Regions from separate parts of the Homo sapiens genome. Here region 2 is reported to be linked to region 1. The links are microRNA targets in miRTarBase. Many come from high-throughput screens and were not tested one by one. Region 1 holds a microRNA gene; the other region holds the end of a gene's coding sequence.
What was found. Region 1 holds the annotated microRNA hsa-miR-130b-3p (CAGUGCAAUGAUGAAAGGGCAU, at 2,879-2,900, opposite strand). A microRNA usually pairs through its seed, bases 2 to 8, with sites in the 3' UTR of a target mRNA and lowers its output. Matches are read on the target gene's strand: a 7mer-m8 pairs with bases 2 to 8, a 7mer-A1 pairs with bases 2 to 7 and ends in A, and an 8mer does both.

Region 2: miRTarBase lists MIGA2 as a target of hsa-miR-130b-3p. Seed matches in the 3' UTR shown: 7mer-m8 at 2,198-2,204.

The regions. Positions count from the first base shown.
Region 1 is chr22:21,651,874-21,656,253 of GRCh38, reverse strand. MIR130B (microRNA 130b) reads right to left here and starts at 2,950; the gene lies at 2,869-2,950. MIR301B (microRNA 301b) reads right to left here and starts at 3,273; the gene lies at 3,196-3,273. It also overlaps the pseudogene LOC107985532. RefSeq lists enhancers at 3,560-3,609, 3,146-3,817, 3,818-4,380.
Region 2 is chr9:129,069,715-129,074,094 of GRCh38, reverse strand. MIGA2 (mitoguardin 2) reads right to left here. Exons shown (of 16, transcript NM_001329990.2): 15 at 4,130-4,246; 16 at 2,013-3,848. The coding sequence ends at 3,642. Among named protein-coding and RNA genes, the nearest start is that of DOLPP1, 9.2 kb to the left of the region's middle. RefSeq lists enhancers at 1,352-2,301, 2,302-3,251, 4,199-4,338.

The sequences.
Region 1 (4,380 bases):
AGGCATACACCATCATACCCAGCTAATTTTTGTATTTTTAGTAGAGGCAGGGTTTCTCCATATTGGCCAGGCTGGTCTTGAACTCCAGACCTCAGGTGATCCCCCCGCCCTCGGCCTCCCAAAGAGCTGGGATTACAGGCGTGAGCCACCGTGCCTGGCCAGGATGTGCCTTTTTTCATACAGGACAAGCACCCCCTTGAGGGTGGAGCAGATCCCTAATCACCCTCCCATCATGTCATTCCAGTAACCCATGCTTCACACTTTATACCTGTATTTGTATTTTTAAAAAGTGTAGGCCGGGCACAGTGGCTTACAGCTCCCAGCACTTTGGGAGGCCGAGGCGGGTGGATCACCTGAGGTCAGGAATTCGAGACCAGCCTAGCAAACATGGCGAAACCCTGTCTCTACTAAAAATACAAAAATTAGCCGGGCGTAGTGGCACATTCCTGTAATCCCAGCTACGCGGAAGGCTGAGGCAGGAGAATTGCTTGAACCCAGGAGGCAGAGGTTGCGGTGAGGCGAGATTGCACCATTGCACTCCAGCCTGGGCAACAAGAGCGAAACTCCGTCTCAAAAAAAGGGTGGGGGGTTATTGGGCCCCTCCTCTTTGTCAGACACTGCCAAGAGATTTTTTTTTTTTTTTTTGAGACGGAGTTTCCCTCTTGTTGCCTAGGCTGGAGTGCAATGGCGCAATCTCAGCTCACCGCAACCTCTCCCTCCTGGATTCAAGTGATTCTCCTGCCTCAGCCTCCTGAGTAGCTGGGATTACAGGCATGCGCCACCATACCTGGCTAATTTTGTATATTTATTTTTTATATTTTCAAGAGGGAGTCTTGCCCTGTTGTCCAGGTTGGAGTGCAGTGGCGCGATCTTGGCTCACTGCAACCTCTGCCTTCCGGGTTCAAGCAGTTCTCTGCCTCAGCCTCCCTAGTAGCTGGGATTACAGGTGCCCACCACCACACCCGGCTAATTTTTGTGTGTGTGTGTGTGTGTTTTTAGTAGAGATGGGGTTTCACCATCTTGGCCAGGCTGGTCTTGAACTCCTGACCTTGGACCCACCTGTCTCAGCCTCCCAAAGTGATGGGATTACAGGCGTGAGCCACTGCGCCCAGCCTAATTTTGTATATTTAGTAGAGATGGGGTTTCTCCATGTTGGTCAGGCTGGTCTCAAACTCCCGAACTTAGGTGATCCACCTGCCTCGGCCTCCCAAAGTGCTGGGATTACAGGCATGAGCCACTGCGCCTGGCCAGAGATTTTTTAAATGACAGTTGTCTCTGCCTCAGGGGCTCCCAGTCTAATGGACACTTCTGCCACAGGGAGAACATTTTGATTTAGGCCGGGTGCGGTGGCTCATGCCTGTAATCCCAGCACTTTGGGAGGCCCAGAAGGGCAGATCATGAGGTCAGGAGTTCGAGACTAGCCTGGCCAACATAGTGAATCCCCGTTTCTACTAAAAATACAAAAATTACTGGGTGTGGTAGCACCTGTAGTCCCAGCTATTCGGGAGGCCGAGGCAGGAGAATCGCTTAAACCCGGGAGGCGGAGTTTGCAGTGAGCCAAGATCGTGCCACTGCACTCCAGCCTGGGCGACAGAGCAAGACTCCATCTAAAAAAAAAAAAATTTGATTTAACAAGCTGTTCTGGAGGAATATTCAATGCTGTGAAGCCCAGAGAAGGCTTCCATTGGGAGGGAGCCAGTGAGCAGAGCCCTGAGTTCAGTCTCCCCGCAGCAAGAGCAGGAGACAGCTGCATGGGGGTCTCCAGCCAGTGGGTACAGAATCTGTACAGGACTGAGGGGTGGCCACCTCCAGCCATGGCCCCTGGTGCCTAGAGGAAGGGAGGATGGATCTAAGTCAGATGACCCTAGGATCAAGGAACCCCAAGGGATCAGGACTAGGAAGCCAAGGAGCATGTGTCATTGCCCCTGTTCCTCCCACGGGTGCCAGGGCTTCTCTCCCCAGGGTAGGGGTAAAGCAGTTTCCCAATGCGCCCAGCTAGGGATGAGGGGAACTCCCAAAAGCCCATCTGGAAACCTAGTCCTCCTCTAAAGAAGATTTGAATGACTGTGACTGGGCACGTAGAAACCTTTTGCACCGTGTCAGGTCTTGATGGTAGAGGTGGTCATCCAAGCATGCCTGGGGTCAGGCTCCTTGGAAGTTCAGCTCCAACCCTGTATTCCAGCTGGGACGGTTGGAATGTTAGACACCTCAGTCCCTCCTGCAGGTTCAGGGCACACCTCTCTGTAAGAGAACAAACTGGCATGGTTGGTAGACATCATTTGCAGGCTTTGTATCCCAAGTCCACCCATCCATCTCACATAGTACCACTCCAGCTGAGTCCACTCAACTGATCAGTCAACTGGTCAGTCCATAGTACCACTCCAGCTGACGTCCTGGGGTGAAGGCTGCCTCCTGAAAGGCCTGCCTTACCCCCTTACCCAACTGCCACCCAGAAGAACATTCTCTCCAGAGCCTGGCCCTGTTCAAGCTTCCAGCAAGGACTGGGCCCAAGCCAGGCCTAGAATGATCTTCCATGCAAAAGACTGGGCGTGTATTTCCCCTAAGACCCTGACCAGGCCTGGAGTTCCAGTCTTACCCCAGGGACCCAATGTGGAAAGACCTTCAAACAAGAGCTTTTCAGAAGCTGGGGAGGTCTGCTCCTGCACCTGTCCAGCCATGACAGGATGGAGAGTTTAGGGATGATTCTCCAGCTCTGCACCCACCTGATCCTCTGATGGAGGGTCCAGTCCAGCTTCACATCTGTGCCTAATCAGTGGAAACACTTACCCTCTGGGCACCTCAACCTTCTCAACTGGAAAGTGGAGTGAGGCAGCAAGCTCCCTTTCCCCCTCCCAGGGTAGCAGGCTGGACCTGACCGATGCCCTTTCATCATTGCACTGCTTCCCAGCGGCCTATAGTAGTGCAACAGGGAAAGAGTGTCGGGCAGGCCTGCCAGTGCCTCCCCCAGGGTGGTCTGCAGGGATCTGAGACCTGGAATGCAGGCTGGCTGGGGCGGGGCCTCTGCCCGGGGGGAAAGGGTGCCCTCTGACCCCAGAGGCCCAGGCCTGTCTAGAATCTCAAGTTTCCATGGAGAAGGGAGCGAATTGGGTAGGGGGGAGGGGAGGGCCTGCAAGCCCAAGGGGCCCTGCCTGGGGAGTGGGAGGTGAGGGTTATAGGGAGGGAGATCCCCAAGGCTGGTCCCAGATGCTTTGACAATATCATTGCACTGCTTCTCAGAGCACAGTAGTGCAACCTCGTCAGAGCACCTGCGGCCAGCAGGGGGGACCCCACCACCCCCAATACACGCAGGGCGGGAAGCTCAACCATGGATGGGTGGGTGGGGCAGAGCCCCCGTCCAGTCCATCCGGGCAGGGAAGGAGACCGCAGCGGGGTGCGTCCCTGGGGTCTTCAGAACCCAGGACACCCAGGCCTTTCCCAGAACGCTCCGGATTGAGGTGGAGGAGAAACCCCAGACTAGGGGGTTGTTCCAATCCCGGAGCAGGAGCTGACGGGCCACGCAGGGGAGGGGGCGCACACACAAAGACGAACCCGCACTCAGCCGCAGTCCAAAGCCGGCTAGCGCCCGGAGCGGGGTGGGTACAGCCCGACGACCCTGCGCCCTGACTCGGCCCGCGGCTCCAGGAGAAAAAGGGCGGCCCCACCCCGGGACGACGCGCCCCTTCTAGCTGACGACTCCATCCCTGGCCCCTTGCCCTGCACTAGATACACTCTGGATTCTTTTCTAACATATTCTTCTGCCTGGAGGCCCAGAGTGGAGCAGAGGATGGGGGCTCCCCGCCCTTCTAGAGTTCCCTGCTCCAAAGAGGGCCCCCGGGATCCCGGCCGCGCCCCTCCGCCTGACCCGCCGAGTAGGGCCGCCCAGCCCAGCCCAGGATCCCCTCCTCAGACACAGCTGACTCACGCAGACATCCCTTCCGCCCAGGGCCCGGTCAGGACGCGGAGGGTTAGACGGAAGAGGATCCCGGCCATCGTCTGCCCCCGGGTCCCCGTCCAGACGACCCTGCACCTCGTGGCGGCCCCTCGCCTGCCGGCTCCATCTTTAACCCGCTGACAGTCGGAGGGGCCGGGCCCCCGACTCCTTAGCATAGCGCTGCGCTCATTGGCCGGCGCTGGCGCGGGGATTCGCCTCCTGCATGCCTGTTGGCTGAGACGGGAGAGATTTCAAAATAGCCTCCGGGTTCCGATTGGCCCGGCGCCGGCCGAGTCTCGGGCTCCGTGGTTTTAACAATGAGTTCTACAAACACTTTTTCCCCATTCATAACTTATCAAAAGGAACTTTGCCCGCCTTTTCTCAGCTCCAATCTCTGCGAGTTTTCTAGCGACACCGACAAGAGCGCTTGGAAGCCCGGTGAGGGGCGC
Region 2 (4,380 bases), not on the chromosome of region 1:
GTTCATCCCCAGTTGATTGGGAAAAGCTCTTATTTTCAGCAAAGACATTAGAAAATTATTTTTGTTTGTTTGTTTGTTTGTTTTGAGACATAGTCTTGCTCTGTCGCCCAAGCTGGAGTGCAGTGGTGTGATCTCGGCTCACTGCAACCTCCGCCTCCCGGGTTCAGATGATTTTCCTGCCTCAGCCTCCCAAGTAGCTGGGCTTACAAGCATGCACCACCATGCCTGGCTAATTTTTGTATTTTTTTAGTAGAGATGGGGTTTCACCATGTTGGCCAGGCTGATCTCAAACTCCTGACCTCAGGTGATCCACCCACCTCGGCCTCCCAAACTGCTGGGATTACAAGCATGAGCCACCGTGCCTGGCCCCGAGAATTTTTTTTTTTTTTAGGTGTGATCATGGTATTGTGGTTATTCTGGAGAATGACCTTGTTTTTTTGTTTTTTAAGTTCAGGGGTGCATGTGCAGGATGTGCAGGTTTGTTACATAGGTAAATATGTGCCACAGTGGTTTGCTGCACACATCATCCTGTCGCCTAGGTTTTTTTTTCTCTTTTTTTTTTCGAGATGGAGTTTCGCTCTGTCACTCAGGATGGAGTGAAGTGGTGTGATCTCAGCTCACTGCAACCTCTGCCCACCGGGTTCAAGCACTTCTCGTCCCTCAGCCTCCCAAGCAGCTGAGACTACAGGCACCCGCCACCATGCCTGGCCAAGTTTTTGTATTTTTAGTAGAGACGGGTTTCACCATGTTGGCCAGGCTGGTTGCAAACTCCTGGCCTCAAGTGATCCACCTGCCTCGGCCTCCCAAAGTGCTGGGATTACAGGCGTGAGCCACTGTGTCCAGCAGTCCTATCATCTAGGTATTAAGCCCAGCATCCACTAGCTGTTCTTCCTGATGCTCTCCCTTCTCCCACACCCTGCCCTCCGACAGGCCCCAGTGTGTGTTGTTCCCTGCAGTGTGTCCATGTGTTCTCATCATTCAACTCCCACTTACAAGAATGTGACTACCTTGTTTTTAAGCTCTGCTTAAAGGTTTAAGAGTAAAGTACATGTCTGAAACTTAGGCTAAAGTATTTTGGAAATACATGAAATAAACATGGCAAAATGTTGCCGGGAGCGGTGGCTCACGCCTGTAATCCCAGCACTTTGGGAGGCTGAGGCGGGCGGATCACGAGGTCAGGAGATCGAGACCATCCTGGCTAACACGGTAAAACCTCGTCTCTACTAAAAATACAAAAAAATTAGCTGGGCATGGTGGCATGTGCCTGTAATCCCAGCTACTCGGGAGGCTGAGGCAGGAGAATGGCGTGAACCTGGGAGGCAGAGCTTGCAGTGAGCTGAGATCGTGCCACTGCACTCCAGCCTGAGTGACAGATCGAGACTCTGTCTCAAGAAAAAAAAAAAAAAGTCAAAATGTTAATTACATGACCAGAAGTGTTGGTTTTATATAGTTTTTTCAATTTTTCCATACATTTGAAATTTTTTTTTAAAGTTTCTTTTTTAAAAACCTGTAAAATAAAACTTGTGATTTCCAGCTGCCCATGAAAACTTGTAACGATCCGGCAGGCTTGGACCTGTTCCCAGTGTTCCAGCCCCTCCCCCTGGCTCTCACAGCTTGGGGGGTAACAACCTTTAAGCCTGTGAGTCTGCATCTTGGCCCGGTCCAGTGCCTGCATTTTACAGATGTGGAAACTGAGGGCCAGTGAGAATCGACTTCCCTAAGATGGTGCCTGAGCAGGGTCCACAGCCAGGCTGCCCACCTTGCATCCATGGCCTTGAGCGTGGCACTGGCCGCTCCCCACCCTTCCCCGCGGACCACCGGGGCCCTCCCTGCCTAGGGATGGCTGGATCCTGTCAGGCAGTCAAGTTGCCCCAAGTAGGATCACAGCCCCCACCAGGCTTCTCCTGACCTTTGTCCTCCTGGAACCTTCACCCACGGCACCCCAAAAAGCAGGTGCCCTGCTCTGCCCCAAGAAGCAAACAGCCATGCACATAACCAACAACATGGCAAAGTGGAAGGAAATCGTCTCAATTGTTTATTCGACTCACAGTCAGTGCACACACTCTACCATCCAAAAGTCGAAGCTGTGACAATCGACTGCTACAGGCAGTGCATGGATGTGTAAACAAACACAAATGAAAATGCAAATCAGAGTGGGCGGGGCCAAGGCCCACTGTTACATTCACAGCACAGGGTAAGTGCAAAAGAACAGGATGTCAGGATGGGGGGCGGGGAGCACAGGGTCCTTCCTGCCCTGGAGGCTGCCTCCAGGCATCAGCCTGGGAGGTGGGTTAGTGCCCATGGAACCCTCCTGCCCAGGAAGCTGCCTCCGGGCATCAGCCTGGGAGGCGGGTTAGTGCCCATGGATCCGGTGTCTGGGAAGGGGCCCACAGAAGATGGGCCACACCCAGCATCATCTCCTCTCTGTGGTGCGCCCTCCCATCCCCAGACCCCTTTCCCATTCAGGGGAGAGGGGCCCTGGTCACAGGAGCCAGTCCTCTGACCTCCTGAGTGTGGAAACCCAGGAGGGGAGTGTGTTTCTCCTGCAGGCCTCTCAACCTGGAAAGGGCAGAGCCACAGCAGAACGCGTTGGGGCCACAGACACTCGCTCAGGTGAAGACACTGAGAAGACACTGCCGGGCTGACAGGACCCCGCGGCGGGGGGACGTCGCTGCTAACAGGACTCTCTGCAGGCCCAGGGGAGGCTCTGCCCCCATGAGGCCCCAGGAGCGTTTGTGCGTTGAACTGAAGGCAAAGTGCTGGGCAGTTTCTTGTCCTAATGAAGGTGGGGAAGCTGGTCCGGCCACATACATCCTCTGACCTCCCCCAAGTGGTCCCCGGGCCCACAGGTGACAGGGGCCTGAGCGATCCCTGGTCTGAGCCCCCAGCTCAGAGCCTAGCACCACCCAGGGAGGTCTGGGCTCATGGAAGGGGGATGGGCGGGGGCAGGAGGGCCCAGCCCCACCTCCGCCCGTCTTTGGTGGTGACAGAGGTGGGAGGAGAAAAGACGATCTTTGGTAGGGCGAGGGAATGTCAAAGGACACTGTCAAGGGCCCAGTTCCTGCTCAGAAGAGAGCACAGGAGTGGGAGGCCCACCTCTGCCCCATCTCTGGATGGCCCAGGCCTGCTGCCCACTAAGGTGGCCCCACTCTCCTTCTCTGGAGTTGCAAACTCTCTGAGAAGGCGGTTGAGGTGGGGAGGGCATCAGGACAGGCCAGCTGGATGCTGAGACCATATAGCCACAGGTGGCTTCTAGCTCAGGACACTGTGACCTTCACCACAGGGCTCTAGGCCCCATCCTTCACCTCCACCCTCCCAGCACCCTTGTCAGCAGCCCTGGAGCGATGGGAGGTTTTGGGGTCCCCCACCTGGGGCATCCTGGCTCTGCCTGTCCCAATTCTCCACAACAACCCCCTCTCTCACAGCCTTTCTCTCCCACAGGCCCCACTGGTCCTGGCCTCTGCTTCCCCCAGGAACCGTTCTTCTCCATGGAAATGTCCCCTCTGGGCCTTGGGGACTCCCAGATGATGGGGGTGGGGCAAAGTCAGGGGCAACGGCCCTCAGCCACCACAGCTGTCAGATACCAACCCAGGGAAGGGAGGAGGAGCCTTCTCTCTGCCACCCCCCAGCCCGTGCCGCCTCTACTGCAGCTCCCCCAGGGGCCCATTCTCTCGGGGCAGCGCCCCATTCACGCCTGCGCTGCTGGCCGCGGGCACCCCCAGGTACCCCAGCAATATCTCGCTGCGGCGCCGGGACAGCTGCAGGATGTCGTCTGCCAGCGCGGGCAGTGACGTGTAGCGCACATTGTCCAGGTCGAACATGTCCCTCAGGTACTGCACAATCTGGTGCTGGGGGAGCAGGGCTGGTGTCAGGCCTGGCCCAGCCACTGCCCACCATGATGCCCCCCAGGTTACCTGAAGTCCCCTTGTCCACCACCAGAGCCCCAGCCGGTCCTTTCCATCCCCAGGCTCCTCCCTCCCACTGCTTCCTCTGGACCCATGTGGGTCTGGCTCTGCCCTCTCTCTGGGAGCAGGCCCAGGCCCAGGCCCTCATCCCATTCCTGGCACCTCCCAGGGCGCCTGTGCTCAGGGCAAGGGTCAGGAAAGAACGAGAACTGCTCTCTGTTTACCTTGAAGAAAGCACAGACTTCAGCAAGCTGAGGCTTGGGTCCAAGGAAGCCGAAGGCTAGGACAGGGCTCACATGCTCCGATACGGAGTAGAAATGGGAGATGAAGCCATCAGGCACCTGCGGTGGGCACAAGGCTGAGGGGCCAGGCGGGGCCCAGGTAGGATGAGGGCACCAGGCCCAGGTGTCGCATAAAGGGCTGGGCTTTAGAGGTCGCCCCAGCTCATGTACTTTCCTGCTAGATGACCCTGGGC